2 separate regions of the Homo sapiens genome follow, and region 2 is linked to region 1. The links come from fine-mapping of genetic effects on plasma protein levels. Region 1 holds a variant in brackets. A gene starts in the other region. All regions are shown on their forward strands.

Region 1 (4,000 bases):
TCTCTACTAAAAATATGAAAATTAGCTGGGTATGGTGGCGGGCATCAGGAGAATCGCTCGAACCCAGGAGGTAGAGGTTGCAGTTGAGCCAAGATCGTGCCACTGCACTCCAGCTTGGGTACTCCGTCTCAAAAAAACAAAAACAAAAAATCAAAAAACAAACAAAAACACCTAAAGTGTAATCATTACAATAAGAAACCTCATGCTGAGTCAGATAGAAGCAGTGCTGGTCAATGGAGGCTAAGGCAGGAGCCTGCTCACCCTCCCCTGCCTCCCTCACGGTCCCAGGACCAGTTGGAAAGCACTCTGTCACCTGCTACCCTCATTTACAGTGGGGAAAATTTAATAAAGGAGGGAGGTGACTTGTTCAAAGTTACACAGCAAGTGGGTTCAGAACTGAGACAAGAGGCCAAGGCCCCAGACGGACCATTTCCTTCTTCTGGCACTCCCATGCCACCCCACCCTCTCTGTTTCCGGCCCATCTTTCCAAGGCCTGACAAGTGCCGCCCCCACAGGTTGGACAGAGACTTGAACCGGCTCCCCCAGGACCTGTACCACGCCCGTTGCCTGTGCCCGCACTGCGTCAGCCTACAGACAGGCTCCCACATGGACCCCCGGGGCAACTCGGAGCTGCTCTACCACAACCAGACTGTCTTCTACCGGCGGCCATGCCATGGCGAGAAGGGCACCCACAAGGGCTACTGCCTGGAGCGCAGGCTGTACCGTGTTTCCTTAGCTTGTGTGTGTGTGCGGCCCCGTGTGATGGGCTAGCCGGACCTGCTGGAGGCTGGTCCCTTTTTGGGAAACCTGGAGCCAGGTGTACAACCACTTGCCATGAAGGGCCAGGATGCCCAGATGCTTGGCCCCTGTGAAGTGCTGTCTGGAGCAGCAGGATCCCGGGACAGGATGGGGGGCTTTGGGGAAAGCCTGCACTTCTGCACATTTTGAAAAGAGCAGCTGCTGCTTAGGGCCGCCGGAAGCTGGTGTCCTGTCATTTTCTCTCAGGAAAGGTTTTCAAAGTTCTGCCCATTTCTGGAGGCCACCACTCCTGTCTCTTCCTCTTTTCCCATCCCCTGCTACCCTGGCCCAGCACAGGCACTTTCTAGATATTTCCCCCTTGCTGGAGAAGAAAGAGCCCCTGGTTTTATTTGTTTGTTTACTCATCACTCAGTGAGCATCTACTTTGGGTGCATTCTAGTGTAGTTACTAGTCTTTTGACATGGATGATTCTGAGGAGGAAGCTGTTATTGAATGTATAGAGATTTATCCAAATAAATATCTTTATTTAAAAATGGCCTAATCTGTATTTGGCATCCGTGGTGCCTGAACATCTCGCGGTCTCCCAGCCTGTCCCTTCTCCTTTCCACCATTGGCCCTCACCTCTGTCCACCCTGCCAGCTCTCTCCGCCCTCCAGAGTTTCCGCTGCACCCTCCCGTCCTCTCCCATCTCTGTCTCCCTGGCCCATCCCAAACACCAGGGTGGGGGCTAGGCCGCGCTCCCGGCATGCTGGAGAGACAGAGGCCCATTGAGGCATTGCAGCAGGCACAGAGCGCCCCCTTGTCCCCCAACAATCCGCCTTTGTCCTCCAGTCCTGGCTGCTGCAGCTTGGTCCTGGGGGTGCTGCCTGGGCTGGGCTCCAGCTCACACCCTCCCTAAAAGGAAATGGGAGAAAGGACCGGCCAAACAAGAGGGTTAAGGTTAGAGAAGGGGGACACAAATGTCTTCAGGCTTAGGTCCCTGGGGGCTCCCAGTCCTGCCCCTGTTCCTCTACTCACATCCCAGCTCCTCCCAGTTTCTTTTCGGACCTCCTCCTCTCCCCTTCCTTCTCTATTCCAGGCTGGGTTGGGCTCTAAGCAAGGGGAGGGATTAGAGCCTCCTTCCTCTCTGCCCCTCCCCATGGGTCTCTAGGGGGCTGGTGCAGGCAGCAGCAGAGGCACTCTGGGCAGCTGGGTGAGGGCCCATCTGGGCAAGGCCCCCAGCGCCTGCCTTCTCTCCCGGGGCCCTGTGGGCAAGCCTCCTGCTTCACTTTCAGGTTTCTCGAAGTGCCTTCTTGCTCCTGTCTGTTTCCCCATCCTGCCAGATTTCTGTTTCTCTTGCTGGGCTTTTGGCAGTAGGGGGCTGTGTTGGTGGGCCCTACGAAGATGCTCAGTGCTCGAGATCGC[C/T]GGGACCGGCACCCTGAGGAGGGGGTAGTTGCAGAGCTCCAGGGCTTCGCGGTGGACAAGGCCTTCCTCACCTCCCACAAGGGCATCCTGCTGGAAACCGAGCTGGTAACAGCTGCCTCCCAACCTGGTGCCTCCATCTCCCTGACCCCCGGCTCCTGGCCAGCCTTATGCCAGCCCCCAGCTCACCCTTCAGTAGCCTCCTTCCCCAAGCCCTCTGGACACCTCTCCTGCCCGCAGCTGCCCCTTCTTCGTCTCCTACTCTGCCTTCTTGCTGCCTCTCCACCCGGAGACATTTACAGCAGGTTTCAGTTGCAGCAGGAAGGACTGCAGTTAGACAGGGTGACTTTTTGGGACATTGAGGAAGCTTGAGACATAGGGATGGGACAGGGGCAATGACAGCCTCTAACATGGCCACTTCTCAGCACGTCCAAGAAGTCTAACTATCAAAAAGGGCAGACTTCCTGCAACTGCACTTTATCTGTGGTCTGCTGCCCAGAAACATCTCTTCTCAGGAAAGGATCTTCCCCTGGTTACTTAGCAAGACCACAGTGTAGAGTTAAGGCCTCTGCACGTATGCCACCCTAGGTCATCAGAGCTAAAGGGGCTCCCAGAAACCACTGGGCAGCATCTGCCTTCTCTCTTGGCATGGAATCAAAGGCTCTGGTCCTTGTCAGGGGGCTTTCAGGCATCTGGGGGTGGGGAAAGCATTATGAGGCAGGGGGCTCCTCTTGGTCCCTGTGGAGTCGGGTCTCTGTGGGCACAACTCCAGGGGCTGGCATTCACACTGTACCTATGAATTACTGTGGGATAGTGCTCCTGGGAGCCATATGGCTTGGCCAGACTGCTGGGGTTGCTGGGTGAGCAGAGTGGGAGGCCGGAGACTGCCCTTGACCGGCAAATGCCCTGCAACGGTGGCTCCTGACACCAGGGGATAGGGAGATGTGCCAGAGTCCTTCCTCCCCTCCAAGGACAGGTAGTAGGTGCCAGCCTAGGGGAGCTTCCAAGGAGGGGAAGGCAAAGCCCTGGCCCCTGCCTGTGTCCCCTTCTTGGCATGTTCCACATGCTCGGTCCTGCAGGCCCTGACCCTCATCATCTTCATCTGCTTCACGGCCTCCATCTCTGCCTACATGGCCGCGGCGCTACTGGAGTTCTTCATCACACTTGCCTTCCTCTTCCTCTATGCCACCCAGTACTACCAGCGCTTCGACCGAATTAACTGGCCCTGTCTGGTGAGGAACCCTGACCCCTAGCCCAGTTTGGGGCCCTTCCCTCTCCTCTAAATGATGCATTTTCCTTTCCTCCCCGAGCTTCTTTCCATTTCCACACCACAGCTGGGCTTTGTCCCATGCTATGCCCTGCACTCAAAGGTGTGCTTTGACTCACACTGATTTCACAGCTGCAGGGCCACGGGCAATCAGGAGGACCACATCCGCTAGATCTACTCTCCCACTCAGCAAAGGTCCAGCCCCAGCCCTGGCCTGGCTTGACCCCCCCGGGCTGGCATACTCCAGCCGCTGTCCCCTGGGTTCCAGCCCCAGCGCCTGGCTTCTGGTCCTGGTTGCTCTGGTTCATCTGCTTCCACTCCCTGGGTAGCAGTGTGAGCGCTCTGTCTCTTGAATGTGCTTCATATTGTGTGAGGGGTATCCTATGGAGGGGTTCAGAATCCCTCAGGGTCGGGCTGCTGGCTAGCCTGGAAAACTTCAGGGTAACGCCCCCTGCCTTCTGAGGTCCTGTTAACCCTGCACCCCTGGCCCCCAGGACTTCCTGCGCTGTGTCAGTGCCATCATCATCTTCCTGGTGGTCTCCTTTGCAGCTGTGACCTCCCGGGACGGAGCTG
Region 2 (4,513 bases), not on the chromosome of region 1:
ACTTTGGGAGGCCGAGGCGGGTGGATCACGAGGTCAGGATATCAAGACCATCCTGGCTAACACGGTGAAACCCCGTCTCTACTAAAAATACAAAAAATTAGCCGGGCGTGGTGGCAGGTGCCTGTAGTCCCAGCTACTCGGGAGGCTGAGGCAGAAGAGTGGCGTGAACCCGGGAGGTGGAGCTTGCAGTGAGCCGAGATGGCGCCACTGCACTCCGGCCTGGGCCACAGAGCGAGACTCCGTCTCAAAAAAAAAAAGAGATGGAGGTCTAGGCAGGGCTTGGTAGCTCACGTCTGTAATCCCAGCACTTTGGGAGGCCGAGGCGGATGGATCACCTGAGGTCATGAGTTCAAGACCAGCCTGACCAACATGGAGAAACCCCGTCTCTACTAAAAACACAAAATCAGCCATGCACGGTGGTGCATGCCTGTAATCCCAGCTACTCGGGAGGCTGAGGCAGGAGAATTGCTTGAACCCAGGAGGCGGAGGTTACGGTGAGCTGAGATTGCGCCACTGCACTCCAGCCTGAGCAACAGAGAGAGACTATGTCTCAAAAAAAAAAAGTGCACACCTCTCTGGTTTTTAGTATGTTTATTACGTTACGCAGCCATCATCACTACTTCATTCCAAAATATTTAATATTTCCATCACCCCCAAAAGAAACTCGTTATATCTATTGCTGTAGTGCCAGCTCCTCAGCCCCTCACCATCCCCTGGCAACCACTACTTAGATGTCCTTTTTATGTCTATGGGTTTTTTACTGTAATTTTTAAATTCATTAATGTCAACTTTAATTTAGTTTCACTTCACACACAGTATATACGGCCAGGCCTGGTGGTTCACACCTGTAATCCCAGCACTTTGGGAGGCCAAGGCGGGTGGATCACTTGAGGTCAGGAGTTTGAGACCAGCCTGGCCAACATGGTGAAACCCTGTCTCCATAAAAATACAAAAATTAGCTGAGCGTGGTGGTGCACACCTGTAATCCCAGCTACTCGGGAGGCTGAGGCAGGAGAATCACTTGAACCCAAGAGGCAGAGGTTGGAGTGAACCGAGATTGAGCCACTGCACTCTAGCCTGGGAGATGGAAGTGAAACCCCGTCTCAAAAACAAAAAAACAAAAACCCTCATATACACAAAACATCTTTGGAGGCCTCATTTTTAAAAACTGTAGTGGGATCCCAAGGCAAAACGTTTCAGAAACACTGATCTAAGATTTGTGTTTTTTGTTTTGAGACGGAGTCTCACTCTGGCGCCGTGGCTGGAGTGCGGTGGCACCATCTCGGCTCATTGCAACCTACACCTCCCGGGTTCAAGCGATTCTCCTGCCTCAGCCTCCCGAGTAGCTAGGACTACAGGCGTGCCACCATCCCCGGCTAATTTTTGTGTTTTTAGTAGAGACGGGGTTTCGCCATGTTGGCCAGGCTGGTCTCGAGCTCCTCACCTCAGGTGAGCCTCCCGCCTCAGCCTCCCAAAGTGCTGGGATTACAGGACTGAGCCACCGCGCCCGGCCCGTGTTTTGTTTTGTTGTTCAACAGGGTGGAACATAATGTCTAAACCTGGGCCCTACCTACCTGGTGCTCAAAAGTGGAATGACCGTCCCTAGCCAACCCTTCAGAAAGGACAGAGAGCTACTCAACGGACTGCTGTACTCTTAAGGACTGGGAACCGGAACCGTGGGTGAGTGGGACTGAATCACAGACTAAGCGTTTTCCACGCTTCGCCGACGTGCTGAGTGCCAAGTTATAAAGACAGGAACATCCAAGCTGCTCTCCTGGGCTGACACGGACGCGAGGGGACCTACAGTGGCCTTGGGCCCAGCAGGCAGCGACTGCAACGTGACTGCCCAGAGTCCAGCCCCTGGGGCCCAGATCTACAGAACCGACCAGACGTGATAGCCCTTTGGCTGGGGCTGCAGTCCCACGATCCACACAACGACCCTGGCTCCGCAGACGCGCCAACCACCCACGGAGGCAAGAAACTGCAGAAAGTAAAGGGAAAGGGAGCCCAGTGCCGGGCGGCGCTGAGCAGCTCCCCCAGCGGCCACCGTCGCCAACATCCCTGCGTAGGGGTTTGTATCGCAGCGCGCTTCCAGACATCAACGGCTGCGCGGCCCACGCGCGCGCATGCGTCCTGACCAGGGGAACCTTTTCTTGGGGACCCGGAGGCGAGCGCTGGAAGGCGGGATAGTGGCGACCCACACGCAGCAGCTTCCGGCGGCGCGTAGTCTTGATTGGTGGAACCTGGGAGAGGGGGCGGGGCACCGGGGAATTCGAATGGGAGAGGCGGGCCCAAGGAGGGAGTGGAATGGCCGCGGGCGGCTCGACGCAGCAGAGGCGACGCGAGATGGCGGCAGCTTCAGCGGCGGCGATCTCAGGTACTTGAGCCCGGCCTGGGCAAGGCGGGTACCGACGTCTGGAGTTTAGTGGGAGTTATGTGTCGGAGTGTGGTCCAGGCTCTGCGGGTTGTCGCGGAGAGGCGGCCATGGCGCAGGGGCGGGGAGAGGGGGACGGTGAGAGTGTGGGGTCGCGAGCCGGTCGCCCCGCCTGGCTCCTGCCTTCTCCCTGTTTCCTGCTCTCCCCTTGGGTCAGTAGACTCGGGTCTCCGGTCCAGGCTCTTGGCTTGAACCCCGCGCACTTTTTCTTTGTGAGCTTCGGTTTCTTCGTCTGTGAAACGGGGGTCATGGCCTCATCCCTGGAGATCACCTGAATAAGCAAGAGAAGAGTGGCGGACGCTCTAGCCACGAGGACGAGAAGAAGGGAGCCGGAGGCGTGTATTGGGAAGGGTTCTGTGTGGGACATGGTGTTTGGGTGCAGAGACATCCCTGAGAGATGCAAGAGGACGGGCTGAGGAACAGACCCGGCTGCTGCTGGGTTTGAGTTGGCAGCGTAAGATGCTCTGCGATTACAGGAAAACGAAATAAAAGACTAAAATTTCCTTTCACTCTAGCATGGAAGTGAATGCTATTTTAGGGTTGGAAAGGCTGTTAGGACACCCAAAATCTTGTATGTGAGTATTTGTTTACATGTGCCTCTCTAACCCGGAGACTTAATCCTCGTTAGTGATGATGGTGAGCGCCATAGTAATTCACTGGAGCCCTCGTTAGCCTCGTGGGGAAACAGACATTTAGGAGAATGCCTAACACATGTAGAGCTCTTGCTATGTGCCAGGCACAGTTGTAGGCATTTTATGGTGGTGAACCATTTATTGTCCACACAATGCTATCAGGTTGTTACTATTACTGTCTTTGTTTTACACAGGAAACTGAGGTTAGTTTGTTCAGAGTTAACACAACTAGTAAATATTGGGGCTTGAATTCGCTCTCAAGGAGTCTGAGTGTAGAACCTCTGCTCTTAACCATTATGCCCAAGTACATGTTATCCCTGCTGGCTGAGCACAGTCTCCCCTTACCCTTCGAAGATGCACTGTGTCCGGTGCATGGTAGATATGAAAATGCCTGAATGAATAATGTCCCTTCCTCGAGGAATTTACAGTCTGTTTCAATAGAGTGTCACATACGTAGATGTAATACGAAACACAATGAGAGATGTGTATAAACTGAGGGTGTGGAATCTGAAGTAAGCCCTTGAGTATTCTGGGAGGACTTCATTAAGGGAGTGAATGATACTTGAGATGGGTTTCAAAGGTTGGATAGGAGTTTGCCAGGCCTTGACTAAGAAGACAAGAACAGCAAGTGTTTTCTTATTTATGATGTAAGATGCTCTCTTAGCTCAATTTCCTCATCAATAAAAGGGAGAAGAGTGAATGAAATTTAGGAATTGTGAAAGAAGGGAAAATTAATAATTGCTAGCCTGGTCCAAGCTCAAGGTTGCTTTTATCATGAAAGGGCTAGACTCTTGTGCAGTAAATAATTGTTTACATGTGGCCCTCCCCTCTTCCCTCCTACCCTGGACTGTGAGCCCTGGGGCAGGAATGGCCGTGAGCCATTTTCATGATGGAAATGAACAAGCCAGTGATTAGTAGTTTATTCACTAAATCTTAATTTTTTTCAGCAAATACTTCTTGAGGGCCTACTCTGCGCCAGGTGTTGGGGTTAGAAAGGTGAGCAGGATAAAACTTGTTCTCACAGTTGGCAGTCAGGTGGAGAAAGTGACAAACACGCAATAGTGGGGTGTGACAAATGCTTATGGAGGGGCTAACATGAGCTGTGGTTGCACCTGATAAAGCCTTAGTGTCTACCAGGAAAGGGTTTTTGGTTTTGTTTTTTAAGAGGAGTTAAAATGTGTTTACCTTAGTCACTCCAGGGTGGGGTGGGGAGCAATGCAGATATTCTAGGGAGAGAGATTAACGTGGACAAAAATCCAAAGGTGCAAGAGAACTTGGAGTTTTGTAGGAAGTGAAGGAAATTCATCATGACTGGTAACTTACACTGCAAGGAAGGAAACAGAGGGAATGACTAGAGGGCAGGGAGACACCTTGCTACCACCAGCAAGGAAGGCTGTAAAGACCATGACCTTGGGCAGAGGTAGTGCAGTGGGAGTGGAGAGAAGTG

Alleles and levels. Positions count from the first base shown, and alleles are read on the strand shown. Strength reflects both the effect of a copy and how common the allele is.
In carriers of allele C in region 1, the plasma level of the protein whose gene starts at base 2,299 in region 2 tends to be higher than with T alone (moderate association).

What was found. PIP is the chance, under the fine-mapping model, that this variant and not a neighbour inherited with it causes the effect. Protein levels are from antibody-based Olink assays in UK Biobank. Linkage for the fine-mapping came from a reference panel and not from the study's own genotypes, which makes the PIPs less certain.
Region 2: it holds the start of KIF22, and the variant in region 1 is fine-mapped to the plasma level of the KIF22 protein (UK Biobank, PIP above 0.99).

What each region holds. Positions count from the first base shown.
Region 1 is chr14:23,375,110-23,379,109 of GRCh38, forward strand. IL25 (interleukin 25) reads left to right here. Exons shown (of 3, transcript NM_172314.2): 3 at 516-1,294. The coding sequence ends at 771. CMTM5 (CKLF like MARVEL transmembrane domain containing 5) reads left to right here and starts at 1,937. Exons shown (of 6, transcript NM_001288746.2): 1 at 1,937-2,268; 2 at 3,240-3,392; 3 at 3,560-3,760; 4 at 3,922-4,000. The coding sequence starts at 2,143. The variant C/T (reference allele first, on the strand shown) is at 2,164.
Region 2 is chr16:29,788,453-29,792,965 of GRCh38, forward strand. KIF22 (kinesin family member 22) reads left to right here and starts at 2,299. Exons shown (of 14, transcript NM_007317.3): 1 at 2,299-2,377. The coding sequence starts at 2,308. RefSeq lists an enhancer at 1,710-2,109.